Homo sapiens: one gene and its partners. The protein of the gene in region 4 interacts with the protein of the main gene of each other region in a pairwise test. Each region holds a gene or a part of one and is shown on either strand. Other genes may lie near its edges.

Region 1 (4,568 bases), on a different chromosome or scaffold from region 4:
AGGAGGCAGAGGTTACAGTGAGCCGAGATTGAGGCCCTGCACTCCAGTCTGGGTGACAGAGCAAGACTCTGTCTCAAAAAAAAAAAAAAAAATTGGCTAATTAAAAAATCTCACAACCAGTTGTGGTCGCTCACACCTATAATCCCAGCACTTCAGGAGGCTGAGGTGTGCAGACAGATTACTTGAGCCCAGGAGTTCGAGACCAGCCTGGGCAACACAGCGAAACACCAACTCTGCAAAAAGTATACAAATTAGCCAGGCATGGTGTCACACACCGGTGGTCCCAGCTGCTTAGGAGACTGAGGTAGGAGGATTGCTTGAGTCCAGGAGGTCGAGGCTGCAGTGAGCCACGATCACACCACTGTACTCCAACCTGGGTGACAGAGTGAGACCCTGTCTCAAAAAAAAAAAAAAAAAAAAAAACCCCAACAAATCTCGGCTAGGCATGGTGCCTCATGTCTGTAATCCCAGCACTTTAGAAGGCTGATGTGGGAGGATCGCTTCAGCCCAGGAGTTCAAGACCAGCCTGAGCAACATAGCCAGACCCCACCTCTACAAAAATATATATATATTTTTAAGTAGCCCCAGTGTGGTGGCACGTGCCTGTGGTCCCAGCTACTCAGGAAGATCACTTTAGCTCAGGAAGTCAAAGCTGCAGCGAGTCGTGATCACGCCACTGCACTCCAGCCTGTGCAACAGAGTGAGACCCTGTCTCTTAAAAAAGAAAAAAAAAGAAAAAAAGCCAGGCACGGTGGCTCACCCCTGTAATCCCAGCACTTTGGGAGGCCGAGGGGGGCGGATCACCTGAGGTCAGGAGTTCAAGACCAGCCTGACCAACATGGAGAAATCCCATCTCTACTAAAAATACAAAATTAGCCGGGCGTGGTGATGCATGCCTGTAATCCCAGCTACTCGGGAGGCTGAGGCAGGAGAATTGCTTGAACCTGGGAGGCGGAGGTCGCAGTGAGCCGAGATCACGCCATTGCACTCCAGCCTGGGCAACAATAGCGAAACTCCGTCTCAAAAAAAAAAAAAAAGAAAAAGAAAAAAAATTAGCCAGGCATGGTGGCGGGCGCCTGTAGTCCCAGCTACTCGGGAGACTGAGGCAGGAGAATGGAGTGAACCCGGGAGCTTGCAGTGAGCCGAGATCACACCACTGCACTCCAGCCTGGGCAACAGAGCGAGACTCCGTCTCAAAGAAAAAGAAAAAAAGTAGGGGAGGGGGGATTAACTTCACATGAGCGGGCTTTCCGCAGATTTTAAATGTTGTCCATATATCACTTTAACGAAAAGTAAAATGCAAACAGAAAAACAACCAACTTTCTTTCCAGCATGTGTACAAGCCAGCCCTCCCCCACCACCCAGCCAAGAAGCAGAACCACCCGATCATTCACAGGGCAGCAGAGTGCTGATCCCCAGGCAGCTGAAGGCGCTAGCCGTGGCATCCCCAAGAGGTGCCCCACCCCGCACACGGCCTGTCCCCTCACCTCGCCCTGGCGCCTGGTCTTGGGGGAAGGACTGAAAAAGTTGTGCAGGACAGAGAGCTCTGTACTGAAGAGAGCGCTCTCCTTCTCCAGGATGTACTGCTTCAGGAGTGGGGAAACCTCGTCCCCGAAGAGGGCCTGGTTGTCTTGCCAGATCTGCCGCTTCACCTCCACGGCGCAGGCTCGATACAGCTCCTTGTCAGCCATAACCAGCTTCAGTTTTTTCTCCGGAACCTACATGACACCACAGGCTGCCTGTGAGTGGCACCTGTGTCCCTGGGTCTCCTTCAAGACAAGCCAAGAGGCCTCAGCCCCGCAGAGACCACCTCGAGCTAAGCTCCACCCCACAGGGCACCTATGACTGGTTCCCCGGCCCCAGCATGTCAGACAGACATGCTAAATACCAACAGCTCTTTCCCAGGAGGGGCCCCACACCCTAACTCCAGTGCTAAGGTTCGGTCTCCACGCGGCTCATGTGGGAGAAGTCAGCACAGAGCTCACCATGGACAGCACTTGGGCAGGCAGCACAGGAAGCTCCCGGAGCTAGGCGGCCACCGGAACTTCCACTAACCAAGGGCATGAGAGTGGGCGGACGGTCCACGCCATCAGGGTTAGGGTTAGGGCCCTACCTTGGGCAGGTGCTTCATGACGCACATCACCACGGGCTGCAGGGACGGCATCTTCACCAGAGAAAAGCTCTTCTCCAGAAGGTCTTCCAGCTTCTTGTACCTGGAACAACTCACAGGATTGATGGTGCAGCGATGCGCCAAATCGCAGCAGCTACCTGCCTGTCCCTACACAGATAACAGCTACCAGGACAAGCCTCCACGCCCAGGACACATGGGTCAAGGGGTCACTCAGACACAGGCCCAGGCCACCTCTGGGAGCAAGGATGTGGAGCCAAAAGGACAATAAATGCCCCTGAGTCGATCCAAGGCTGAGAGGCCGGCTGCACATCTCACCTGCCCACCCCTCCCGCTGACCCACCTTTCCTCAGCCTTCCCCTCCGAAGCGATGGCTGACACTCGCTCCAGCAGCTTGTCCCGCAGCTCATCGAATACCGACTGGTGGAACTCCAGCCGCGGCGTCCCGTGCAGGTCCAAGAAGGGGAGGGCTGACTGAAGAGATGGCAGCAGCACACCATTCTCTGTCTGAGGAAGCCAAGAGAAACCTCAAACGCAGCCCAGTGCGCCCGGGCACCCCGAGGTCCTGAGAGCACAGGGAGGCACGCACCCAGGTGTTCCCAGCCGTGCTGGCGGTAACCGCAGCCACCGAAAGCCACCCAGCCGTCCAGCAAAGGGGTGCTGGCTCCGGACTCCACCCCCAGAACAGGACTCAGCCACCAGCAGAAAGCCGGAAAACTTCCGGCGCCTCCGCCAGGCCCGACTCCCGAGCAGGCGGCCCGGCCCTCCAACTGGGCTCCCCCCGCCCCGGGGGCCGCCCCACCTGGAACTGCTCGATGGCCTTGAGCGGCTCCGTGCAGTTGGTCAGGGTCTCCTTCAGGTCCTCGCCGTTGGCCACGCCCAGGTCCTGCAGCCCCGCGAACATGGCCGAGGCCCCGGCCACCGCCCGGCTAGGCGCCCCATCCCCAGCCCGTTCCCCCGGCGCCGCCGCAGACACCCCAGAAGCCCGCTCCGCCGGGCCTCGGGGACCGCCCGAGCCCCGCTCCCCGGCGCCCTCCAGCTCGGCCAGGTCCCGCCCGCCGCGCGACTCCGCGCGCGTCCCGCAGCCGCCCACTTCCGCCCCGCACCGCCCAGGTCCGCCCGCCAACCGGCCCCCGGGAAACGCCGCCGGGGCCGCGCGCAGGTTCCTGGGAGCAGCGCCCTCACCCGGCGCGAGAGACCCCGCCCAGCCAGCCCAGCGCGCATGCGCCCACCCGGTCCCGCCCGCGCCCGGGCTTTCTGGCAGAAGAGGGCGGGTGAGGGCGTGGGGGGCGGACTCAGGGTCCGTCTGCTCCGGGAACGGACGTCGTCGCAGCCGAGTGAATTTCGTGTACATAAGCGTGGAAAACGCTCTTGCAGATCTCGCGGCAGCCACGCGCAGCGGGGACGTTTTGCCGGGGGTTGAGCTCCCCGCCCCTCTGCCCCGCAGGGGCCGGACACAGGCGCAGACTCCCTCCTGAGCGTGGGTTCCTCCGCGTGAAACGGGCACGAAGCCCACCCCGGCGCTGTCGCCAAAACTGAGATCTGAGCGCCTTCAGGGGGCCGGGGCCTGGCGGAGACCGGGCCCGCAGCGGGAGCGCGAGCGACGGCCGCCCTCCCAGGCACCGGGAGGCTGTGGCGCCCACCGAGCTCCGCGGAGCCGTGAAGGAGAGTCCAGGTTCCACAGTGTCCCTTCTTATCCCAGGCGGGTGGGCTCCCCGGGCCTCCCCGCCTCTCCAGCCCGCCGCCCTCCCGCAGGCTGTGCCGCGCCAAGCCCCCTACACACACCCTCTCTCTTTTCGGTCTCCGCTGCTGAAATTTTCTCTAGAAATTTCTTTCCCGCTGCCCAGCAAACTCTTGCTCTTCCTTGAAGGCTTCTTCCTCCACCACCTCCTCCAGGAAGCCCTCCCTCCTCAGCCCAGCTGGAGGAGATCGCTCCATCTTTCCTGCCGCTCCCACTCCTAGCTTTGGGTCTCACCAGGGGTGCCTGGTGGTGCAGCCGTGAGCAGAGCTCCTGTTCCCACAAGCCGGGCCGAGCTCCCAAGGCCATGGCTACCACAGCTCTCTTGCCGCTGGCCAAGTTGGTCAGCCCTAGGGCGAGGGTTCCAGTGCCTTGATCCAACCCCCAGCTGGTTCGGTGGCAGAGGAGGACAAGGGTCACAGCACACACACAATCCTGAGCCTGGGATTCCTCTCTGAGAAAGGGGGTGGTGCTGAGGCCACAGAAGCAGCTGCCCAGAGCCTTTTTGAAGGGGTTGAGCTCTGGGCCTGGTCTGGGTCCTGGGTCTGGGGAGGACCTGGGGAGGTGCGGGTGACGGCACCGCAGGTAAGGCTCCTGCAAGGTGGCAGCCTTGGGGCCCGACCCTGGGTAGGAGGGCAGGCCAGTGATGACAAGGGAGGCCCCAGCCAGGCGAAGTTGCAGGCAGGGGCAGTGCAGGGTCCC
Region 2 (4,041 bases), on a different chromosome or scaffold from region 4:
CCATTGCCAAAGACCAGCTGAAGTCCCTTCATGGAACTGTTATGAAAATTAACCAGGAGCGAGCAGAGGTGAGTTCACATGTACAGAACAGGTTTCCATCAATGATGCTGCTGTCAAAAAACATGGCAACTTGTATTATTGATCTTGCTATAGACATTGGTTATTTTATAAACCACTGTAAAGTTGTCTGTTTTTCTTAAGACCTAAAGATTATATTCCCCCCATCACAACCCCCAATAATTTATTTTGTGCTGCCATGGATACTGCGTTCTACTGAGCCCTGAAAGGAATCATCAAATAAACATGCTATCCCTACCTTTAAGTGTAAGGATGCTTAGGGAGGTAGCTGTCAATATCTACCTGGACAAGGGTTCCTGAAGGATTGTTATATAATCCCTCTGAATCTCAAATTTTTCATCTCGTGCAGTCATGTGAAAATGTTACTTCATAGTATGACTCCTTACTGAGCTAATGTCTGTTACTGTGCTTTATAGGATGCAAATGCTAATGAGATTAAGATAGCAGATCATAGGAGACAAAAATCTAATGATGAGAGCCCAGAGAGACATAATCATGGAAGACGGTAGTAAAAGTAAAAAAGTAAAAAAATTAGCCTTTGTTCTTTCTGATGCCGCACCTTGGGGTTGGGAGCTGGGCAGGCTGCCCAACAATGGGAACAACACAGGAGAAGGTGGGGCTTGGATGTCCCTTTTCATGGACAGCCTGGTAGGCAATGTGATGAAAGCAGAAGAATCAATCCAAGAGGAAGAAATGAAGAAGACAACCTGTGATAGCAGTGGTGCCTTTCTCATACTTCTGTCCCAGTAGGAGTTGCAGGAAGCAGAGAGGTTCAGCAGAAAGGCAGCACAAGCAGCCAGAGATCTCACCCGAGCAGAAGCTGAGATCGAACTCCTGCAGAATCTCCTCAGGCAGAAGGGGGAGCAGGTCAGTGTTGGTACCCAGAGACCTCCTCTTTCTCAGATTCTTATCAGTTCCTAAAAGACAAAATTACTGTAGGTGATGTCTCAAAGAATTCTGAAGTGCAATCAATAGTTAATAAGTACTTTATCCTCTACTGTGTGCCAGGCTTGGTGCAGTTTCCAAGTAATGCAGTTTCCTCACTGGGAAAGTGTAAATAAATATAGAATCATAATCAAGTTGAAAGGATAAATGTGTTTGGGAAAGAATGAATTCATTGGCAACTTTGTATGTGTAATTTTTTTAAATAGTTTCGACTTGAGATGGAGAAAACAGGTGTAGGTACTGGAGCAAACTCACAGGTCCTAGAAATTGAGAAACTGAATGAGACAATGGAACGACAAAGGACAGAGATTGCAAGGCTGCAGAATGTACTAGACCTCACTGGAAGTGGTAAAGTATTGGGCTTTGATTTTTGGCAGTGGTTTTGTAGTCATAAAATTAAATCATCTCATTTGTTTTTTACCTTTAACTGTTACAAATCAAGTCCATGCTTGATTCAGAGAGCTGTGGTAATTAGCTTAATAAGTAAAATAAAATAAATCAGATAATTTTAAGAGTATTTTCTGTAAGTGTGTTACTGGGGGACTTGGTTGCCAAGATAAGAGTTTCGTATTTGTGGGCGAGCACAGTGGCTCATGCCTGTGATCATAGCACTTTGGGAGGCTGAGGTGGGTGGATCGCTTGAGGTCAGGAGTTCGAGACCAGCCTGGCCAACATGGTGACACCCTGTCTCTACTAAAAAATACAAAAATTAGCTGGGCATGGAGGTGGGCACCTGTAAACCCAGCTACTCGGGAAGGTGAGGCAGGAGAATCACTTGAACCTGGGAGGCAGAGGTTGGCAGTGAGCCGAGATTGGGCCGCTGCACTCCAGACTGGATGACGGAGTGAGACTCTGTCTCAAAAAAAGAAAAAAAGAGTTTTGTATTTGTAATTTCAAAATAAATAATGTTTACAAATCAGTTTGCCTTTTTTTGACTTACCAAAGGGCAGACTGAAAGTCAGCTTTGAGGAACTGATAAAATTAATTGGCTCTCTTAGAATCTCTTTTATATTTTGAGAAAGGAAGTAAGTGATTTCATATCAATTTCATAGAATGACTTTTCTTTACAGACAACAAAGGAGGCTTTGAAAATGTTTTAGAAGAAATTGCTGAACTTCGACGTGAAGTTTCTTATCAGAATGATTACATAAGCAGCATGGCAGATCCTTTCAAAAGACGAGGCTATTGGTACTTTATGCCACCACCACCATCATCAAAAGTAGGAATTCTGTGGTGTTGGGAATGTATACTGAATTTTCTTGAAGAAAGTGTGACATTGTCCCCTTCCCCAAATTTATGAACAGGTACCAAAAACAACATTTCTATGCTAAGCCGTGCATTGAGGTTCTGTAGCGTTTTTAATATTTGAGATGAAAATAGGGCCTTCTTGGGGAAGGTGACAGTTGACTGTTCATACTCGGGCGGTATGTGTTAGGGTCCTTGAATGTGGATGCTCTAAGGAGAAAAGGTGATTTGAGCCCAGAGAGCCTGCTGAAATGGACATAGAATTGTGCAGAGCCTCCGACAGAAAAAAAGGCACCTGGATTTCATGTCCTTTTAACGAACATTCATTCAGTGTTTACTGAAGCCTAGGCCAAGTGCTAGGTAGTGGTGGGGCATCACAATGAATGGTAAAGCCCCTGCTCTCAAAGAGTTCATTGGCCATGCCAGCATAATTGCAAAATGGTGACATACCTATGACAACAGACCTGACCTGTATTCTCTAGTTGCAGAGAGGTATTAAGGATTCATCTGATGGGAAGTTCAGGAAGGAATGCTTCACAAGCAGGGATGTGAAGTCAGCACTTAGCAAGCAGTGAGCGTTGGGCTTTTAGGAGGGAGGAAACAGCTCGTATGGAAGAGGAGAGTTATTGGCTTAGCAAAGACAAATAGCTTTGTGGGGCTAGAGGGTTTATAGGAACAGTGTCAGATGAAGCTGAAAAGTAGATTGGGGTCATGCTTTTGTTTTTCTTTTTGTTTTTTGAGACGGAGTCTTGCTGTGTCCCCCAGGCTGGAGTGCAGTGGTGTGATCTTGGCTCCTTGCAACTGCTGCCTCCGGGGTTCAAGCGATTCTCCGGTTTCTGCCTCCTGAGTAGCTGGGATTATAGGCATGCGCCACCACGCCTGGCTAATTTTTAGATTTTTAGTAGAGATGGGGTTTTGCCATGTTGGCCAGGCTGGTCTCAAACTCCTGACCTCAGGTGATCTGCCCACCTTGGCCTCCCAAAGTTCTGGGATTACAGGCGTGAGCCATCACCGTGCCCAGCCTGGAGTCATGCTTTTTTAAAAGGGCCTTAGAATCTCTTACACTTAATTATGTAGGCCATAATTATGTAGGCCATGAGAAATGGGTTGTGTACTAAAATGATCAGAGCTGTAGTTTAGGAATAATATTCTGGCTAGTATAGAGTCTATACTTATGGTAGGGTGAGCTTTCGGTGGGGCTCTTTAAACTGATTCAGGTAAAGAGTAGAAGCCAGAGCTAGATCAGTGGAGCTGGGAAAGAGGAGATGAGATTAAAGGATGTTAAAGAGAAATGGTTAGGGCCTGGGGCCTGAATGTGGGAAGTGAGGAGAAGACTGGGGCCTGAATGTTGAAAGTGAGGAGAAGACTATAGGCTGTATTCATCCAAAGCAGAGGGGCCTGGTGCTATCCTGCTAGAATCAGCCGATGAGCAATAGTCAGGGAGAAGCAGCTCAGACACACTAGGTTCTCAGGGCTGTGTAGACTTAACCAGACCCCTGAAGAGCAGAATCTTAGATTCTCCCAGCAATCCTAAAGGAAGCCAACTCCTTGGTACAACCAGAGCTGGAGGTGGAAGCAGTATAAATTAGAGCAAAACATATAAGCCTGAGCTGGGTGAGGGTTTAGAGGATGTACCTACAGACTGAGAAGGAGAAGGAGGGTAGCAGAGTAGAGCTTTAAAGCCATGCCAAGCTCCCAGGACCACAGAAGACTGGTGACCCCAGATTTCTTCGAAGTTCACTGGTTTCCTTTGCCTCAGTCACTGGGCCATCA
Region 3 (4,041 bases), on a different chromosome or scaffold from region 4:
GAGATCTTTCAGTTTTCCCTTCCATTTTTCTTTTTTAATTGCCTGAGGGATAAAAACACAAGTTCAGCTGGGCGCGGTGGCTCATGCCTGTAATCCCAGCACTTTGGGAGGCCGAGGCCGGTGGATCACCTGAGGTCAGGAGTTTGGGACCAGCCTGGCCAACATGATGAAACCCCATCTCTACTAAAAATACAAAAATTGGATGGGCATGGTGGTACACACCTGTAATCCCAGCTACTCGGGAGGCTGAGGCACAAGAATTGCTTGAACCCAGGAGGCAGAGGTTGCAGTGAGCCAAGATCATGCCACTGCACTCCAGCCTGGGCGACAGAATGAGACTCCATCTCAAAAAAAAAAAAAATCTCCCTCCCAAAGATGTCTGTTGGCTGGATGTGGTGGCTCACACCTGTAATCCCAGCACTTTGGGAGCCCTAGGAGGGAGGATCTTCAGTTCAGGAGTTTGAGAACAGCCTGGACAACATACTGAGACCCCATCTCTACAAAAATAAAAATTAAAAAATTAGCCAGGCGTGGTGGCACGTGCCTGTAGTCTCAGGTACTCAGGAGGCTGAGGTGGAAGGATCATTTGAGCCTGAGAGGCCAGGGCTACAGTTAGCTGTGATTGCATCACTGCACTCCAGCCTGGGTGACAGAGTGAGATTCTGTCTCAAAAAAAATAGAACTCCTCCCGCATGTGGCTTAAAGCCATACTGAAATTTGTGGTAGGTCACAGGGTAACCTTCAATCCAGAGAAATAAAGCAGGGCAAGAGGGGTAAGGAGCAGGGATATTGATAAGGTAATGCTTGAGCAGCAACCTGAAGGGAGTGAGGGACTGAGTCACATAGATAACTAGCCCAGGCAATGGAGTAGGTGAAGTGGGGTGCAGGGGGAAAGTTCAGCAACGGCAAAGTTCTAAAGTTAAAGAGTGCCCAGGAGGCTTAAGGAAAGCCAGGAGGCCACTATGGCTGGGCTGAATCACAGTTAGTGGGGAAAAAGGATAAGAGATGAGGTCAAAGAAGTAATGGGGAAGGAGTTATGTTGAGTGGGGCCTTGTGCACCACTGTGAGGAAATTGGCTTTCTCACTGAGTAAGGTGGGACCATTACAGAGTTGTGAGCAGAGGAACTGCATGACCTGAGTTCTGTATCAAGAGAATCACTTTGCTGTAAGAAGCACAGATTATGCAGGGACAAGGGCAAAAGAGGGGAGACTAGATAGGAGATTACTGCAACAATCTCCTAGAGAGACACTGGTGGCTTTGACCACAGTGGTAGCTGTGGAGGTGACAAGTGGTCAGATTCTGGATATAGGCATTTCCCACTTAACATCAGTAATCTGTTTCATGAAAATTGGACATTCTGTGTGAAATCTTCAACTTAATATATTTTCCATTGATTGATTGATTGAGACAGGGTCTTGCTGTGTTGCCCAGGCTGGAGTACAGTGGCACAATCACGGCTCACTGCAGCCTTGACCTCCTGTACTCAAGCGATCCTCCCACCTCAGCCTCTTAAGTAGGTGGGACTACAGGCATGAGCTGCCCCACCCAGCTGATTTTTTATTTTGTAGAGACAGGGTCTCACTATGTCAGCCAGGCTGGCACTCAGTAATTTTCTATCAGTTCTATTTGGAATATAATTTGAAGCTTTAAATGCACATTACTTTGTTAAAAATATAGATAAGATTTTAATGATGTAAATATACATATTTTCTGTATAAACATACACTGGGCCAGGTGTGGTGGCTCACACCTGTAATCCCAGTACTTTGAGAGGCTGAGGCAGGCAGATCACTTGAGTCAAGGAGTTTGAGAGCAGCTTGGGCAACATAAGGAGACCCTGTCTCTACAAAAAATTAAAAAATTAGCCAGGCATGGTGGCACATGCCTGTGGTCCCAGCTACTTGGGAGGCTGAGGTGGGAGGATCACTTGGGCCTGGGAGGTTGAGGCTACAGTGAACCATGATCACACTATTGCACTTCGGCCTGGGTGGCAGAGTGAGACCCTGTCTCAATAGATAAATAAATAAACATAAGCTGAATCAACATAAGTTTGGTATATTAGTTAACTATTGCTGTGTAACAAATTATGCCAAAACTTAGCAGCTTAAAACAACAATATTTATTATCTCATACAGTTCTTGTGGGTCAAGAATTTGGGAGTGGCTTAGCTGGATGGCTCAAGCTCAGGGTCTCTTATTACGTTGAAGTCATCTGAAGGTTTGACTGGGCCTAGATGATCTGCTTCCGAGATGACTCACTCATGACTAGCAAGTTGGTACTGGCTGTTCACAGGAGGTCTCAGTCCCTTGCCATGAAGTTCTCTCCATAGAGCTGCTTACATGTCCTTACAACATGGCTGATGGCTTTCCCTAGAGGGAATGATCCAAGAGAACAAGGCAGAAGCCACAATGTCTTTTATGACCTAGCCTCAGAAGTCACACATTGTTTTTTCATTTTTTTTTGAGACAGGGTCTGCTCTGGCACCCAAGCTGGAGTGCAGCAGTGCGATCTCAGCTCACTGCAACCTCTGCCTCCCCCCGGGTTCAAGTGATTCTCATACCTTAGCCTCCCAAGCAGTTGGGATTACAGGCGCCCGTCATGACACCTAGGTAATTTTTGTATTTTTAGTAGAGATGGGGTTTCACCATGTTGTCCAGGCTGGTCTCAAACTCCTGACCTCAAGTGATCAGCCCATCCTGGCCTCCCAAAGTGCTGGGATTACAGGCATAAGCCACTGTCCCCAGCCACACATTGTTATTTACACAGTGTCCTATTGGTTGCATAGGTCAGCCCTGCTCAGTGTGGAAAGGGAGTATGCAAAGTCGCATAGCAGGAGTTGAGGATTACTAGAGACCATCTTGAAGGCTGACAACCAAGCTGGATATTAAAAACAAAAAGGCATTCTATGGTGAAAATGTTAACTAGAGACATTTTGCTGGATGTGCCTGTATTCTGAAATAGAGCTAACAGGATTTGCTGATGGTTTGGTATATGAGGTGTGGGGAAAAAAAGAGAGGCGTAAGGGATGACTCCAAGGTTTTTTGTTTTTTTTTTTTCCTATGAGACAGAGTCTCGCTCTGCCACCCAGCCTGGAGTACAACGACACGATTTTGGCTCACTGCAACCTCTGCCTCTCCAGTTCAAGCAATTCTCCTGTCTCAGCTTCCTGAGTAGCTGGAACTACAGGCACGTGCCACCATGCCCGGCTAATTTTTTGTATTTTTAGTAGAGACAGGGTTTCACCGTGTTAGCCAGCAAGGTCTCGATCTCCTGACCTCATGATCTGCCTGCGTCGGCCTCCCAAAGTGCTGGGATTACAGGTGTGAGAAACCGTGCCCGGCCGACTCCAAGGTTTTTCACCAAACAACTGAAAGAATGAGATTGTCTTTCTTGGCCAGGTGAGGTGGCTCACACCTGTAATCCCAGCACTTTGGGAGGCCAAGGTGGGCAGATCACAAGGTCAGGGGTTTGAGACTAGCCTGGCCAACATGGTGAAACCCTGTCTCTACTAAAAATACAAAAATTAGCCAATGTGGTGGCACACGCCTGTAGTCCCAGCTACTCGGGAGGCTGAGGCATGAGAATCGCTTGAACCTGGGAGGTGGAGCTGAGATTGCGCTGTTGCACTCCAGCCTAGGCAACAGAGCAAGACTGTCTCAAAAAAAAAAAAAAAAGAGCTTGTCTTTCTTTCGTTCTTCCCTTCCTTTCTTTCTTTCTTTCCTTCCTTTCTTCCTTTCCTTCCTTTCCCTCCTTCCCCTCCTTCCCCTTCCTTCCTTCCTCCCTTCCCTCCCTCCCTCCCTCCCTTCCTTCCCTCCCAGAGTCTCGCTGTGTCACCCAGGGTGGAGTGCGGTGGCGCGATCTCAACCTCCACCTCCCGGGTTCAAGGGATTCTCCTGCCTCAGCCTCCCGGGGTAGCTGGAATTACAGGCATGCGCCACCACACCCGGCTAATTTTTTGTATTTTTCATAGAGATGGGGTTTCACCGTGTTAGCCAGCATGGTCTCGATCGCCTGACCTCATGATCTGCCTGCCTCGGCCT
Region 4 (4,041 bases):
CATCAAGAAAATTGTCCTTACTGATCCCCAGAGTGTCAAACATGCTCTACGTGAAATCAAAATTATTAGAAGACTTGACCATGATAACATTGTGAAAGTGTTTGAGATTCTTGGTCCCAGTGGAAGCCAATTAACAGACGATGTGGGCTCTCTTACGGAACTGAACAGTGTTTACATTGTTCAGGAGTACATGGAGACAGACTTGGCTAATGTGCTGGAGCAGGGCCCTTTACTGGAAGAGCATGCCAGGCTTTTCATGTATCAGCTGCTACGGGGGCTCAAGTATATTCACTCTGCAAATGTACTGCACAGAGATCTCAAACCAGCTAATCTTTTCATTAATACGGAAGACTTGGTGCTGAAGATAGGTGACTTTGGTCTTGCACGGATCATGGATCCTCATTATTCCCATAAGGTATGTATAGAAAGCCAGCTGAGACAGATCTTTAAACTGATACACCTAATCAGGAATAGGTACTTATATTTTCTTTGTATATTGTGGCAGAATTTTTAATCTTATTAAACTTTACATAGTGCCTTTTTTCTGAAACAAGTCTCTCTGTTTGAAATGAAGGTGGAGTGGGATAATTAAATACAAATTTCTAAAAATACATGGTTATTATAATGAAATTTTAAAGTGTATGGTTATTTATTATAAATGAAATTCTCCCTTAGTTATTTAAAAGTGGAATATACTCTTCTTTCTTTGGGACAGAATTGTGGTAAGAGGGGATGCTATTTCAACTTTAGGTCTTTTGTTTTTGAGACAGAGTCTCACTCTGTCACAAAGGGTAGAGTGCTGTGGCGCCATCTCGGCTCACTGCAACCTTCATCCCCTGGATTCAAGCGATTCTTGTACCTCAGCCTCCCAAGTAGCTGGGATTACAGGTGCGTGCCATCATGCCCAGCTAATTTTTTTGTATTTTTAGTAGACAGGGTTTCACCGTGTTGGCCAGGCTGGTCTTGAACTCCTAGCCTCCAGTGATCTGCCTGCGTCAGCCTCCCAAAATGCTAGGATTACAGGTGTGAGCCCCCATGCCCAGCCTTTTTTTTTTTTTTTTTAAGTTTTTAGTGACAAGATCTTGCTGTGTTGCTCAGGCTGGTGTCAAACTTCTGGGCTCAAGTGATCCTCTGGCCTCAGCCTCCTGAATAGCTGAGGCTAAAGGTGCATGCCAGCACACCCAAGCTTATGTCTTCTTTTGTCTCTTTGAGCCTGTACTATTCAGTTCTGCTTTGTTTAAACTAAATTTAGCTTGAAATCTAAATTCACATAAACAATTGGTAATAAGTATAGCCAAAAAGATCTCACAGCAACTTCGTCTTAGATAGCAAATTGCCTTCATACAAGAATTTAATATTTTTCAAGCTGAACCTTGGTCTTTTAGTTTGGAAATGAAATCTTATGTGGGACCCTGATGTTTAAATTAGAGAGGTGGAGCTGCTTTGGTTGTAAAGAACCCCTGGGAGCCCTGCTTTGTTAGCTTTCCACAGTACATGCCTAAGACAAATCTTCATACATGTTGTTTCACGTTAAGATTATTTTTATTTTTATTTATTTATTTTTTTGAGACTGAGTTGTGCTCTTGTCACCAAGGCTGGAGTGCAATAGTGTGATCTCAGCTCATTGCAACCTCCGCCTCCTGGGTTCAAGCAGTTCTCCTGCCTCAGCCTCCCAAGTAGCTGGGATTACAGGCGCCCGCCACCACGCCCAGCCCACATTAAGGTATTTTTACTTGGGCCAGGTACAGTGGCTCACACCTGTAATCTCAGCACTTTGGGAGGCTGAGGCAGGCGGATCACCTGAGGTCAGGAGTTTGAGACCAGCCTGACAACATGGTGAAACCCTGTCTCTCCTAAAAATACAAAATTAGCTGTGCCTGGTGGTGCATGTCTGTAATTCCAGCTACTCGGGAGGCTGAAGCAGGAGAATCCAGGAGGTGGAGGTTGCAAAGAGCTGAGATTGCGCCAATGCACTCCAGCCTGGGCAACAGGAGCAAAACTCCATTTCCAAACAAAAAAGATATTTTGTAGAAAATGAGTTCTAGGCTGGAAGCGCGGTGGCCCCTGCCTGTAATCTCAGCACTTTAGGAGGCCGGGGCAGGAGGATCACTTGAGGCCAGGAGTTTGAGACCAACCTGCGCAGTGGCTCCTGCCTGTAATCTCAGCACTTTAGGAGGCCGGGGCAGGAGGATCACTTGAGGCCAGGAGTTTGAGACCAACCTGGGCAACACAGACAACTTTTTTTTCCTAGAGAAAAAGAAAAAGAGATGAGTATTACACTGACGACGTCCACAGTGAAATATTGTGGGTAGAGCACTGTATCCACAGTGAAGTATTGTGGATAGAGCACTGAACTAATAAGACTTATACTATATAAAATTGACTCCATTTCTACATCCAACTAGCTATATGACTTGAAGCAGATCTCACTCTCTCAGTCATCACACCTATAAAATGGAGTTAATATCTACCATCACAATCTCTCAGGGTAGTTTTGAGGATGAAATAAGGCAATATATGTGTAAGGTTTTGTAAGGTGCTTTGTAATTGTAAAGTAGTTGAATAGGTGATGAATAGGATTTATAGTAGAGGTCATTAAGGAGGTAGACATTGGTTTATAAGTAGCACCTCTGGTGCTCTTCCCTACTGTTCTGACTTGAAGCATACTTGCTCTTTGATTATCTCAAGACTGAGTGTAAACCAGCTCGTCTTCTGAAAAATGCTTTGAATGTGTGGCCTAGAGTTATATAATTTTTTTTTTTTTTTTTTTTTTTTTAAAGACAGGGTCTTGCTCTTTGCTCACTGCAACCTCTGTCTCCTGCGCTTAAGTGATCCTCCCACCTCAGCCTCCCAAGTAACTGGGACTACAGGCGTGTGCCACCATGCCAGGCTAATTCTTGTATTTTTAGTAGAGGCAGAGTTTTACCATGTTGCCCAGGCTGGTCTCAAATTCCTGACCTCAAGTGATCCACCTACCTCGGCCTCCCAAAGTGCTGGGGTTAAAGATTAGGATTTTTTTTTTTTTTTTTTTGAGATGGAGTTTAGCTCTTGTTGCCCAGGGCGGAGTGCAGTGGCACAATCTCGGCTCACCGCAACCTCTACCTCCCGGGTTCGAGCGATTCTCCTGGCTCAGCCTCCCAAGTAGCTGGGTTTACAGGCATGCACCACCACACCTGGCTAATTTTGTATTTTTAGTAGAGATGGGGTTTCTCCGGTTGGTCAGACTGGTCTCGAACTCCCGACCTTGGGTGATCCGCCCACCTTGGTTTCCCAAAATGCTGGGATTACAGGCATGAGCCACCACGCCTGGCAAATTAAGGATTCTTTAATCAAGTTGTAAGTACTGTTCTTCAGCTAAAGTAAAAAAAGTATGTTTTTTGTTTCTTTTATAGGGTCATCTTTCTGAAGGATTGGTTACTAAATGGTACAGATCTCCACGTCTTTTACTTTCTCCTAATAATTATACTAAAGCCATTGACATGTGGGCTGCAGGCTGCATCTTTGCTGAAATGCTGACTGGTAAAACCCTTTTTGCAGGTTAGTATTTTGTGGGGGGAAAAATTTTCCCAAAGAGAAGTAATTTTGCATTTTATCTCTGAAGCAAGATTCATATAAGATTTAAAATAATTTGTTATGATCTGTAATACTAAAATGAACAGATAAATTGGCGTTTTTAATAAAAAAATTGAGAAAACTTATTCACATATTCACTAAATTGGTCACTTCATAAATTATCAGAACTCCTGTTTAAATATAATTTCATATTTTGTGGACCCATAATACTTGTTGGTAATTTGTGTTGATACTTAAGTTGCATAATTCTGTCAGTATCATCACTTCCTGGTGAAAATTTTAAGCCATTGTTGAAAATCCAACAAATTTTTCTTGGTCCCCTCCCCCTATAAACAACCAAACAAGTAATTTTTTGTTAAGTTTGGTGCTATTTAGAAGTCTAAAGAAGTGTGTGAGAGAGGACTTTGTCAAGATGAGATGAGTAATCCATGAAAAATGTCTTGTGTCATAAAGCAAAGCATAGGTCTG
Region 5 (4,470 bases), on a different chromosome or scaffold from region 4:
GGTTGAATGTAAGTGTTCTTGCATGTTGCCTCTGGCTAAGGAAGTGCCAACTACCACCAGCTGTGCAGATCACAGACCCTGCAACAGAAACCAGGGTCCTGGAGTGAGCTGGCAGAATGGTCTGGCACACATACACACACACACTCTGTCTCTCACTGTCTCATTCAGCAGCCCAGTGACCAACCTCGGGGTATACACACTAAGTGCCAGTGTGTGTACACTTTTATTGGCGGAGTGAGTGAAGGGTGTCCCCCAGTCCCCCACACTCATACACATGCACAGTGATGCATGTACCCTTACAGGAGAGACCTGCGCCCCCCAGCACCACTCTAACTGAAACTCATGGATGGGAGGAGGAGAACAGAGAAGGGGGCTGCTGCCAGGTGCCCTCAGTCACCAGGCATGTGCAGGCGCAACCCTGCCCCCACACCTACTCGTACCTCGGTCCAGGGTTCCAGGCAGAACTGAGAGTTTGGCCTCAAACTCTGGGATTCCCATGAGGCAGGACTGGGAAACCCCCAAGTTCCTAGGTCTACCCCGCCCCCATCTCTGCCTTTCCTTCCCCCACCGCCTCCGTCTTTATCCCAGCAAAGCCCCTTCCTCTTCAGTTCTGGGGGCTCCAAGCCAGGGGCCCTCCGGACGGTGGGAGGTGGGGGCCAGGCTACCGACTGGAAAAAGCCCCCAGCAGCCATGGACCCACCGAGTCCCCCTTCTCTAGGCTCCTCGAAGCCCGGGCCCGCCCCTGGGGGTAGCCAGCAGAGGGCGCTGCGGCCCAGGCCCCGCATCAGCCCTGCTCTCGCGGCGTCCCAAGTCGGGGTCCACAGCCTCTCCTTCGGCTTGTCCCAGCCCCGCGCTGCGCGAAGACCTGCTGGCCGTGGGGGGAGGGTGCGGGACCCAAGGCCCCGAACTAAGGGGCGAGGGGCGAGGGGCGAGAGTGCTTGGGTTCCCGGAAAAGACACTGAGGCCGGGTTTGGGGCCCGCCTGGTTGGGGGCCCGGGCGCCCGAGAACCTCGAGAGGCTGGGAGGAGCGCGGGTGCTGGGGCCGGGACGCCTGGGTCCCGCGCGAGGGAGGGAGTGGGCCTGTGGAGCCGCTGGACTGGCGGCTTCTGAGCCCTTGCATTGGCTGCGCTGCTCGCCCGTCAGCGCAGCGTGGTCCAATGCGCGCGTCTCGGGGGCGGGCACTGGTGCTGATGCTGCCGTCAGTCGGTGTTGCAGGGATGCGGCGGCGGGAGCAGCCGCCCTGACTCGCGGAGCATCCTCCTCGGAGAGGCACCGCGGCGGGGCGGGCGGGCGGGCGGGGACGCGGCGGGGAGGGAGAGAGGCGCGAGGCGGCAGACACCGCTAGCCCTGGCTCTGCCACCCGTCGGAGACGGGGCGGCCCTGTAGCTCTGCTACCCACCCTCCAGCTTCTGGCGCCCCGAGAACCAGGTAAAATGGGGGGGGGGGGGCGCTGCGGCGGAGACGGGCGGGGGGCGGGAGCCGATCGGGGGAGGGGAGCGGATCGGAGGGGGCGAGGGAGGCAGGACGGATGAATTGGGGGGCGGGGGCGCCGCGCTGAGAGGGCTGGCCCGGTGACAGCGAGGAGGCAAAGCCGCTGGGGGCTTGGGGGTCGGAGGCTCCTGTGGAAGGGGCACTGGCCCTGAGAGCTGAGGAGAATGGGGAGGGGTGGGAGGAAGGGTCTTTGGGGGAAGGGATGGAGAGAGGAGGGGCATCCAGAGGACTTAGAGGGGGTTCTTAAAGGGGGGTCCCCAGTCTGTGCTAGCCCCAGAGGCTTGAAGCAGCGCCGGGCCAGAGGAGCTGTTGTGTTCTGGAGGGTCTAACCAGCGAGAAACTGGGCTTCGTGGGAGGAGAGGAGAGGGGGCTGGAGAAGAGAGAGAAGTGGAGAGGGAAGGAAAGGGGCCAGGCCAAGGGCTTCGTCCTGAGGGGACCCACTGAGGACCAGGCTTTCCTGGGGGATGGGAGCCAAGGGGAGAAGAGGTTATTGGGAGAGAGCAGAGGGGAATGTGCCAAGGTGCTCCAGGCAGAGATGGGTCTGTGCTGGTGGAGAGCTGGGAAAGATGGGGTCTGAGGGAGAGGAGCGGAAGCTTGCGGGGGAAGGCTGGGGGTGATGAGACAGGGAGACTGGGAAATCAGTAGGAGGGGGCTTTGCTGGGGTGGGAATGCGCTGGGGGCGGTGACAGGGTTCTGGTCAGAGAGTGCTGCAGGGGGAGAGGAAGCTGCAGGGCCCTTGGCTTGCTCCCCCACCCCTAAAGAGGAAGGGACCATTTCTCATGTCCCAGCCTCCTCCCCCAGCTGAAGCAGCAATCTTCCCTGGGGTCTTTGGGTTGGGGTATGAGCCCTTGAACCCTTGATGGGCTTTTGGGGCACAATTGGCTTTGGGGTGCTGTTGTCTCCTTTACTCTCACCCCCCTCCTGAATCTTGGGAGAGGGCATTCGATGCCTCATTGAGCTAGCAAGGGCTGGGAGGGGCTTTTTCTTGGTGTCTGGAGGTGAAGGAGGAGGCTGTCCACCTGGAATAATGAAATAGATTTTTAGGGGGTGGGTCTTGGGTCCCCAGTCCCTTGGCTGCCCTGGGGGCTTCCAGATAGCCCTGTTTTTTCATGTGTTGGCGGGTGGGCGTCTCTCCTCTTCCATTCATTCTTATCCTTCCCTGTTGTCTACCTTCCCAGTGTCTGGGTGTTCCTTTTGGAGGAGGGTGGACATTAGGGTCTTACTTTCTCTGTCTTCTGCCAGAGAAGGAGAAAGAAAGAAGGGAGAGGGAAGGAGAAGGGGAGGGAGGTCTGCAGTCTGCTAACTGTGAGGCCTTCTGTTTTGTGGGTGCTTCAGCCCCTCAGTCCCTACCTCCTCTTGCTTCCAGGGATGGCTCTAGGGATGCTGGCATCTGAGGTGTGGCTGGATCTTTTGGGAGACAGGGGAGAAGGGTCTGGCTGGGGGCTCTTCATTCATGCTAGAGGAAGTGTTCTCAGACCCATCCTATCCTCAGATCCACAGGGGTGGGCGGGATGGACCAACCAGCCACGGCTGCCGGGCAGTTCTTTCCAGCCCAGGCCTGGGCTGAATCCATATGACATTGGAGTTCTGAGAGGAGGGGCTGGGTGCGCGAGTGGCTGGTGGGGACCCCTCTTTCCTTCCAGGCTCAGTCACTACCCAGGTCCAGCTGCTCCCTCCCGCTTACCCTTGCCAGTGACACAGACACTCTGACAATGATACACGCGCTCGGTGGCACCCACCCAGACACACACCTACACAGGCACACACACCTGCGTACACAATACACCTCCTGGCAGCATACAGCCCACACTCCCCACCCAGAGAGGCTGCCACCTCATGCCTGCCTCCTTGAGACCTCCCCCAGGTGCCTTGCTGCCATGTACACAACACACACACGGCCACTACGTGCCCCCAGAGCCCCCAGCGCAGCACTGCCAGCCCTCACCCTTGGATGCACACAGCCCCCATCCAACCACTCACCTCCCCAGGCTCACAGCCATCGCAGGCACACCTGTGCTTCTTCCTCATACACCTTCAGTCCTTGCAACACACCCTCTCCTTCCAGACACCCCATCCCTCCCAGGTCTACACAGCATGTGGGCACACCCTCCCAGACACACCAGTCCCTGCCCCCCAGCAAGCTCATCCTGAAGTACCATGTGCATGTCTGTCTGGGTGCTGAACACCTTGCCCCAGGCCTTTGTGTGTGTGCACGTGTGTGTGCACACCAGCACATGTTTGCTAACACACTTAATGCTGTGGCTCACCCCCTAAACCTCTCTTCTACTTTCTCTCTCTCTCACTCACTTATCTTTGTACCTTCGGCGCAGGGCCTCCTACCCCTCCTGGCCACAACCACGACCCTTCCCAGTGGAGTCCAGCCCCCACCTACACCTGGTTTCCCTGGGAGCCTTCCCATTTCTAAGTGGCCCCACCCCCCGCATTAATCCTCAGGCACAAGGGCCCCTACACCTGCCTGTGCACTGGAGACACTGTCCTTTCATTCGCAGCTCCCAAGCCCAGCCCCCACGGGGATGCCCCGATTGTGTGTCCTCACACGCCACCCACCTTGCTGCTCCATCTGTTGGTGCAGCTCCCTCGCCCCTGCCCCTTCCACACTGATGGGCCTGTGGGCTCTCGGAGACTCATTCAACAAATAGTCTGGTGCACACTTTCAAGGATGTGTGTGGCACCTTGTTATTTACGAAGCTGCTTCCCCACTGCCACCACCACTGTTTGGCATGGTGGGGTGAGGGTGAAGGTGGGACTCCGCTGTGCTCCTCAGTGAGCCTCAGTTTCCTCACGTGTGAAATGGGATCCTCATCCCTACCTAGTGGGATGTTATGAGGACTCACTGAGAGGACAATGATGGCAATGATAGTAGTAACAAGCATGTTTATTGTGTACCTACTGTGTGCCTGGCCTTGTGCGAAGCACTCTGTAAACCTTACTTTGAGGTATTTGTAAGACACATAGAAG
Region 6 (4,041 bases), on a different chromosome or scaffold from region 4:
AAATCCCAAGTGAGCCGCAAGGCCTCCAGCTGGAACCGGGAGGAGAAGATCCCCAAGACAGTGGAGATCAAAGCTATCGGGCATGGTGAGGACCAGGCAGGGACCCCTATGGGCTTTGTTCAGTGAGTGCCTCTGCTGGAAAGGGGAAAGAATGGGGCTTATTGAAGAATAAGATCAATAAAAGGCAACCTTAAGACAAAACAGACGTGAGCACTTCACTCTGAAGCAAACTCCTTAGACTGCAGGTTCAGGGAAGAGAGAGCAGGGAGCTCGAATGGAAGGAGGTGAGATTTGAGGTGGATGATAAAGTACAGGATTTAGACAGGTAGAAAGAGGTAAGGAGTGGGCAGGTACGGTGGCTCATGCCTGTAATCCCAGCACTTCGGGAGGCCAAAGTGGGAGGATCGCTTGAGTCATGGAGTTCGAGACCATCTTGGTCAACACAGTGAAACCCTGTCTCTTTTTTTGTTTGTTTGTTGTTTGTTTTTTTGAGACGGAGTCTTGCTTTGTCGCCCAGGCTGGAGTGCAGTGGTGCGATCTCGGCTCACTGCAAGCTCCACCTCCCGGGTTCACGCCATTCTCCTGCCTCAGCCTCCTGAGTAGCTGGGACTACAGGCACCCGCCACCACGCCCGGCTAATTTTTTTTGTATTTTTAGTAGAGATGGGGTTTCACTGTGTTAGCCAGGATGGTCTTGATCTCCTGAGCTCGTGATCCGCCTGCCTTGGCCTCCCAAACTGCTGGGATAACAGGCGTGAGCAACCACGCCCGGCCCGAAACCCTGTCTCTTAAAAAAAAAATTAGCTGGGTATGATGGTGCATATCTGTAGTCCTAGCTATTGGGGAGGCTGAGGCGACAGCATCACTTGAGCTGGGGAGTTCGAGGCTACAGTGAGCTGTGATTGCACCACTGCACTCTAGCCTGGGTGACAGAGTGAGACCCTGTCTCTTAAAAAAAATAAAAGAAGAAGAAAAAGAAATGAGTAGAGAGGGTATTCCAGATTCCAGGTACAGGGAACAGCATAAGCCATGATATCGAGATGGAAAAGACCCTAAATTTGACTTTTCCAATAACTGATCCTGAAGACAAGGCCTGGGTCTCCCTGGCTAGTAGGCTGCCAGGTACCTGGGGTCAGCTGTAGGACTGACCTCTCTGGTACATTTTCTTTTCACCCCCAGTGATAGAGGAAGGCGGTGTCAAAATGAAGCTGACCGTCATCGACACCCCAGGCTTTGGAGACCAAATCAACAATGAAAACTGGTATCTGTCTGCCTCTGAGATCTTTGCCCTAAAGACTCTGCTGGGAAGATACTTACTATGGTGCAGATTCATTCACGTTGAGAACCATCTGCACCCTCCATGCTCTGTAGTTCCCGACAGCCCAGGCCAGGGCCCCTGGGGAGCTCCACCCCTGCTAACTAACCATCCAGGAAAGCCATCGGTGCGGGGGCTGAGGGGGAATCTGGCAGCAGGTATCCTAGGCCCACCAACCAGGGAATGACATGAATGTAAGGAGATTGCTACCAGATCATGCCTAAGCTGAGCCCTAGGTCTTGTTCTTCTGATGCATCTATCTACTTTCCCTCCCCATCAGCTGGGAGCCCATTGAGAAGTACATCAATGAGCAGTACGAGAAGTTCCTGAAGGAGGAGGTCAACATCGCCAGGAAGAAACGCATCCCTGACACTCGTGTCCACTGCTGCCTTTACTTCATCTCTCCCACAGGACACTCGTATGTACCAACCCTACCCCTATTGTCAGGCCTGGTCTGGTTTGTATCATCTGTGCCCATCTGGATTGGATGATCCATACGTTGACTCAGCTAGGCCTCCCTAGCTGAGTCCTAGCCCTTCCAGCCAGATGGGTTGGTACATAGTCATGGCCCATGACCTTGGGATTCCCTAGACTTTCCACGAGGAAGTTTGACTTTCTTGCTAGGAGGTTAAAGCTGTCCAACATCAGCCACCAATATCTGCCCACTGGTGTCCCAGCAGCATGGCACAACTGTATCAGCAAAGAGGACTTGGTGAATGTGAGCAGAGGGCACTTCATTTATTCACCAAATACCTGCTTTGGAAAATAATTGGAGTCGGAGGGAGCAGCAAGAAGGGTGAAATAGGGCAGTGCAGGGCTCCTGGATTGGGGCTGGTGTTTGGAGGGTAGGGACCCAGTTGTAGGCATTTAGAAGGTACCAGCCTGGAGTGAGGCATTGTGTGTTCAGAGATGAAGGCCAACCATTGTCATGAAGTACTATCTGATAGGCAGAATAAGACACACACAAGCATGTTGGGAACTCTGATTGTGAGTGACAGGTGGGCCCCATGAAGGAAGTGCTGGGAACAGGCAGAGGATGGAGATCCTAGGGGGCAGGCCAGAAACCTTCCTGCAGAGACCGGGGGAGGGGGGTCCCATAACATTACTAAGCCCAGCTGCTGGGCCAGAGTTAAGCTCTTCAGAGGATGGCACAAGCAAGGTAAGCCCCAAATTTTCTAGGAACCAGGCAGTGATGGTAGGGGGAGAAGAGAGATGAAACAAGACCCCTGGGCTAGACCCAGGAACTCAACAGAAGGCTGGTTTTATCCCTCCCTAGGCTTCGACCCCCTGGTCAGAATGAACCATCAGACAGACTGACTTAGTGAGTCCCTGAGATTGCAAAATAGAGCCAAGTTGGGGTCTCAGAGCCTGAGGTAGGATGGGGGCATAGACTGTCAGATTGTGGGAAGGGCAAGGCCTCCAGTTTGGCCCTGCAGGACTAACTCTGGGGGCTAGGAGGAGACCTGTCAAGAAGTAGTCTGATAGGCAGAACAAGATGTACACACTAGGCACGGTGGCTCTCGCCTATAATCCCAGCACTTTGGGAAGCCGAGGCAGGAAGATTGCTTGAGTCCAGGAGTTCAAGACCAGCGTGGGCAACATGGCAAGACATTGTCTCTACACAAAATTTAAAAATTAGCCAGACATGGTAGTGCGCAACTGTGGTCCCAGCTCCTCTGGAGGCTGAGGTGGGAGGATTGCTTGAGCCCTGGAGGTCAAGGCTGCAGTGAGCCAATGACCATATCACTGCACTCCAGCCTGGGTGACAAAGTGAGACCCTGTCTCAAAAAAAAAAAAAAAAAAAAAGACACACACAGTGTTGTTTTTTTTTGGTTGTTGTTGTTTGTTTTTTGTTTTTGAGACAGACAAAAAAGGAAAAAAGACACACACGCACAAGGACATATGAGTAGAGACAGTAGTCCACAGATGCTCCCAGGAGAAAGAAATCCCTGAGTCAGAAAAGATGTCCTGAAGTGGTGGTTTGAGGGGGGCTTAAAGAGAGGCAGAATCTGCAAGGGGACTGAAAAAGAAAAAGGCAGGTGTTGAGGCTGCTCTACAGACGGCAAGGCAGTGGGGCTGTGTCGGAGACGAGAGGTAGCAGCCTCTTGGCCTCAGCCAGATGCCCAGCCCAGTCCTCTTCTCCTGTGGGTGTCCTGGAGTGGTGGTGGTGGCTGAGTTGGGGAGGGCAAGGTGGCTCTGATGATTCTGCCTTTTCTGTGCCCCAGCTTGCGACCTCTGGATCTTGAGTTCATGAAACACCTCAGCAAGGTTGTGAACATCATCCCTGTCATTGCTAAGGCTGACACCATGACCCTGGAGGAGAAGTCTGAATTCAAGCAAAGGGTGAGAAGGCCCCCTGTCTTCTTTTCCTGTTCCCATCCCCTCCTTTCTCTCCGCTGGGTTCAGGCCATCTCCTAGCCCTCATCATTCTGCCTTCACCCCCACCCTCAACCCTCCCCCAATTCTCCACCCCAGCCCCCTTCTTAACCATTCAAGAGGCTGAGGTTGGTGGTATCTGGGGACTATGATGAAGAAAAGATGGCACAGCTCTGGGCTGCCTTCTTCCCACCCTCCAAACCTACCTGTGAAGACCACTGAATACATGTATCACTGTGTACATAAGAAATCACTCCTCCAACGTTAGCCTAATTGAAGGGCTAGACTAATTAGTGAGTCAACTGGCCACTAGTCCTCACTGGCATCTTCTCTTTGTTTTTTTTTTGGAGT
Region 7 (3,595 bases), on a different chromosome or scaffold from region 4:
GAGAGAAACCTTACAAATGTGAAGAATGTGACAAAGTTTTCAGTCGGAAATCAACCCTTGAGTCACATAAGAGAATTCATACTGGAGAGAAACCATACAAATGTAAGGTTTGTGACACAGCTTTCACATGGAATTCTCAGCTGGCAAGACATAAAAGAATTCACACTGGAGAGAAAACTTACAAGTGTAATGAGTGTGGCAAGACCTTCAGTCACAAGTCATCCCTTGTATGCCATCATAGACTTCATGGTGGAGAGAAATCTTACAAATGTAAGGTCTGTGACAAGGCTTTTGCGTGGAATTCACACCTGGTAAGACATACTAGAATTCATAGTGGAGGAAAACCTTACAAGTGTAATGAATGTGGGAAGACCTTTGGTCAAAATTCAGATCTTCTAATTCATAAGTCAATTCATACTGGAGAGCAACCTTACAAATATGAAGAATGTGAAAAGGTTTTCAGTTGTGGATCAACCCTTGAGACACATAAGATAATTCACACCGGAGAGAAACCATACAAATGTAAGGTTTGTGACAAGGCTTTTGCGTGTCATTCCTATCTGGCAAAACATACTAGAATTCATAGTGGAGAGAAACCTTACAAGTGTAATGAGTGCAGCAAGACCTTCCGTCTGAGGTCATACCTTGCAAGCCATCGCAGAGTTCATAGTGGTGAGAAACCTTACAAGTGTAATGAGTGCAGCAAGACCTTCAGTCAGAGGTCATACCTTCATTGCCATCGTAGACTTCATAGTGGTGAGAAACCTTACAAGTGTAATGAGTGTGGCAAGACCTTCAGTCACAAGCCATCCCTTGTTCACCATCGTAGACTTCATACTGGAGAGAAATCTTACAAATGTACGGTTTGTGACAAGGCTTTCGTGCGTAATTCATACCTGGCAAGACATACCAGAATTCACACTGCAGAGAAACCTTACAAGTGTAATGAATGTGGGAAGGCTTTTAATCAACAATCACAACTTTCACTTCATCATAGAATTCATGCTGGGGAGAAACTTTACAAATGTGAAACATGTGACAAAGTTTTCAGTCGCAAATCACACCTTAAAAGACATAGGAGAATTCATCCTGGAAAGAAACCATACAAATGTAAGGTTTGTGACAAGACTTTTGGGAGTGATTCACACCTGAAACAACATACTGGACTTCACACTGGAGAGAAACCTTACAAGTGTAATGAGTGTGGCAAAGCCTTTAGCAAGCAGTCAACACTTATTCACCATCAGGCAGTTCATGGTGTAGGGAAACTTGACTAATGTAATGATTGTCACAAAGTCTTCAGTAACGCTACAACCATTGCAAATCATTGGAGAATCTATAATGAATAAAGATCTAACAAGTGTAATAAATGTGGCAAATTTTTCAGACATCATTCATACATTGCAGTTCATTGACACACTCATACTGGAGAGAAACCTTACAAATGTCATGACTGTGGCAAGGTCTTCAGTCAAGCTTCATCCTATGCAAAACATAGGAGAATTCATACAGGAGAGAAACCTCACATGTGTGATGATTGTGGCAAAGCCTTTACTTCATGTTCACACCTCATTAGACATCAGAGAATCCCTACTGGACAGAAATCTTACAAATGTCAGAAGTGTGGCAAGGTCTTGAGTCCGAGGTCACTCCTTGCAGAACATCAGAAAATTCATTTTTGAGATAACTGTTCCCAATGCAGTGAGTATAGCAAACCATCAAGCATTAATTGACACTAGAGTCAGTCCAGCATTGACTTGAGTTTGTGTTGACTTAACATTGAGTTCAACCCTTAATTGACATTCAAGTGTTTATGTTAAGAGGATTGGGCCAGGTGTGGTTTCTCACACCTGTAATTCCAGCACGGTTGGAGGCCAAGGCACATAGGTCACTTGAGGTCAGAAGTTTGAAACCAGCATGGCCAACAGATGTCAGCCACTTTTCCCAGCCTGTTTTTTGATTCTTATTTTCTATTTTTCTTTTTTGAGATAGTACTTTTTAAAGAGATAGTACTTTTTTGATATAGTACTTTATAAAAGGGAGATCAGGCCAGGCACGGAGGCTCATGTAAGTAATCCCAGCACTTTGGGAGGCCGAGACGGGCCCATGACAAGGTCAGGAGATCGAGACCGTCCTGGCTAACACGGTGAAACCCCATCTCTACTAAAAATATAAAATATTAGCCAGGCGTGGTGGCAGGTGCCTGTAGTCCTAGCTGCTTGGGAGGCTGAGGCAGGAGAATGGTGTGAATCCTGGAGACGGAGCTTGCAGGGAGCCAACATCGTGCCACTGCACTCCGGCCTGGGCGACAGTGAGAATCTGTCTCAAAAAAAAAAAAAAAAAAAGGATATCAAAGCTGGATGGTGGCTCATCCCTGCAATCACAACACTTTGGTAGACTGATGTGAGTGGATCACCTAAGGTCAGAAGTTCAAGAGCACCCTGGCTAACATGGTGAAACCCCATCTCTACTAAAAATACAAAAGTTAGCCGGGGGGTGGTGGTGTGCACCTTTAGTTCCAGCTACTTGAGAGGCTGAGGCACAAGAGTCGCTTAAACCTGGGAGGTAGAGGTTGCCGTGAGGCAAAATCGTGCCACTGCCCTCAGCCTGGGCAGTAGAGTCAGTCTCCATCTCAAAGAAACCAGCAAACAAAAAATATTAAAAAAAAACATTAAAAATGCTTTTGTTCTCATTGTTCAATAGACTTCCTTTTTTTTCCTTTCTGATTCCTCTTCATTTCTCTCTTTTTTTTTTTTTTGCAGTTTGAGTTTGAGATAAATCTTAGTTTTAAAAATTGTATTTCTTTCATAGTATATAATCACATCTGAAAGATGCCTTTGCAGCATCGTATAGTCAGCTCACATCATTCATTTCTGTACTTGTATATTCTCCTGTTCTTTTCCAGTTGACCCCAGAATTCATTAGATTAAAAAAAATAGTTGCTGTTTGAAATTAGTTGCATCCAGTTCAGATCGAAGTCTGCATGCTTTCTGGTCTTTGTTATTTATTGGAAGCGTTTCATACCCAATACTTAAGTTTGATTGTTTCAGTGTGTACTTGGTATAGATGTCAGTGACCTTTTAACTAAACATCAAAATGTAGTTTAACCAGTTAGTCTGTTTTTCAGTTTTCTTTCCTTATGTCATTTGTTAAAATCTTGAGCTGGGAGCTATTTATTGCGTGTTTCCCTCAAGGCCCTCTGGTCCATTCTGGAAAAATGTTGAAACATGGGCTGGATTGGCATGGAACTCTCCTCCAAAAGCACCCATGTATTCTTTTTCTTTTTTTTTCCTGAAATGGAGTCTTGCTCTGTCGCCTTGGATGGAGGGCAGTGGTGTGATCTCAGCTTACTGCAACCTCTGCCTCCCGGGATCAAGTGATTCTCCTGCCTCAGTCTCCTGAGTAGCTAGAATTACAGGCACCCACCAACATGCCTGGCTAATTTTTGTATTTTTAGTAGAGACAGGGTTTCACCATGTTTGTCAGGCTGGTCTCTAACTCTTGACCTTGTGATCCGCCCGACTCGGCCTCCCAATGTGCTGTGATTACAGACATGAGCCACCCCGCCTGGCCTCTGTTTTTTTTTTCTTTTTCT

The links.
Region 1: the proteins of MAPK6 (region 4) and NELFB interact in a two-hybrid assay, tested with the Homo sapiens proteins (one large-scale study listed by BioGRID and IntAct).
Region 2: the proteins of MAPK6 (region 4) and CNTRL interact in a two-hybrid assay, tested with the Homo sapiens proteins (one large-scale study listed by BioGRID and IntAct).
Region 3: the proteins of MAPK6 (region 4) and MON1A interact in a two-hybrid assay, tested with the Homo sapiens proteins (one large-scale study listed by BioGRID and IntAct).
Region 5: the proteins of MAPK6 (region 4) and NRXN2 interact in a two-hybrid assay, tested with the Homo sapiens proteins (one large-scale study listed by BioGRID and IntAct).
Region 6: the proteins of MAPK6 (region 4) and SEPTIN3 interact in a two-hybrid assay, tested with the Homo sapiens proteins (one large-scale study listed by BioGRID and IntAct).
Region 7: the proteins of MAPK6 (region 4) and ZNF600 interact in a two-hybrid assay, tested with the Homo sapiens proteins (one large-scale study listed by BioGRID and IntAct).

What each region holds. Positions count from the first base shown.
Region 1 is NC_000009.12:137,253,974-137,258,541, reverse strand, and holds the start of NELFB (negative elongation factor B), read right to left. Parts: upstream 3,216-4,568; 5' UTR 3,177-3,215; coding exon 2,931-3,176; intron 2,636-2,930; coding exon 2,472-2,635; intron 2,214-2,471; coding exon 2,114-2,213; intron 1,719-2,113; coding exon 1,488-1,718; intron 1-1,487. UniProt on the Homo sapiens protein: Essential component of the NELF complex, a complex that negatively regulates the elongation of transcription by RNA polymerase II.
Region 2 is NC_000009.12:121,144,015-121,148,055, forward strand, and holds part of CNTRL (centriolin), read left to right. Parts: coding exon 1-68; intron 69-828; coding exon 829-945; intron 946-1,229; coding exon 1,230-1,371; exon of another isoform or gene 1,372-1,376; intron 1,377-2,093; coding exon 2,094-2,242; intron 2,243-4,041. UniProt on the Homo sapiens protein: Involved in cell cycle progression and cytokinesis. During the late steps of cytokinesis, anchors exocyst and SNARE complexes at the midbody, thereby allowing secretory vesicle-mediated abscission.
Region 3 is NC_000003.12:49,923,103-49,927,143, reverse strand, and holds part of MON1A (vacuolar fusion protein MON1 homolog A), read left to right. Parts: intron 1-4,041. UniProt on the Homo sapiens protein: Plays an important role in membrane trafficking through the secretory apparatus. Not involved in endocytic trafficking to lysosomes.
Region 4 is NC_000015.10:52,046,601-52,050,641, forward strand, and holds part of MAPK6 (mitogen-activated protein kinase 6), read left to right. Parts: coding exon 1-415; intron 416-3,392; coding exon 3,393-3,537; coding exon of another isoform or gene 3,538-3,542; intron 3,543-4,041. UniProt on the Homo sapiens protein: Atypical MAPK protein. Phosphorylates microtubule-associated protein 2 (MAP2) and MAPKAPK5.
Region 5 is NC_000011.10:64,719,929-64,724,398, reverse strand, and holds the start of NRXN2 (neurexin-2-beta isoform alpha-1 precursor), read left to right. Parts: upstream 1-1,201; 5' UTR 1,202-1,428; intron 1,429-4,470. UniProt on the Homo sapiens protein: Neuronal cell surface protein that may be involved in cell recognition and cell adhesion.
Region 6 is NC_000022.11:41,986,028-41,990,068, forward strand, and holds part of SEPTIN3 (neuronal-specific septin-3), read left to right. Parts: coding exon 1-85; intron 86-1,178; coding exon 1,179-1,260; intron 1,261-1,594; coding exon 1,595-1,732; intron 1,733-3,539; coding exon 3,540-3,657; intron 3,658-4,041. UniProt on the Homo sapiens protein: Filament-forming cytoskeletal GTPase. May play a role in cytokinesis.
Region 7 is NC_000019.10:52,763,269-52,766,863, reverse strand, and holds the end of ZNF600 (zinc finger protein 600), read left to right. Parts: coding exon 1-1,277; 3' UTR 1,278-2,680; downstream 2,681-3,595. UniProt on the Homo sapiens protein: May be involved in transcriptional regulation.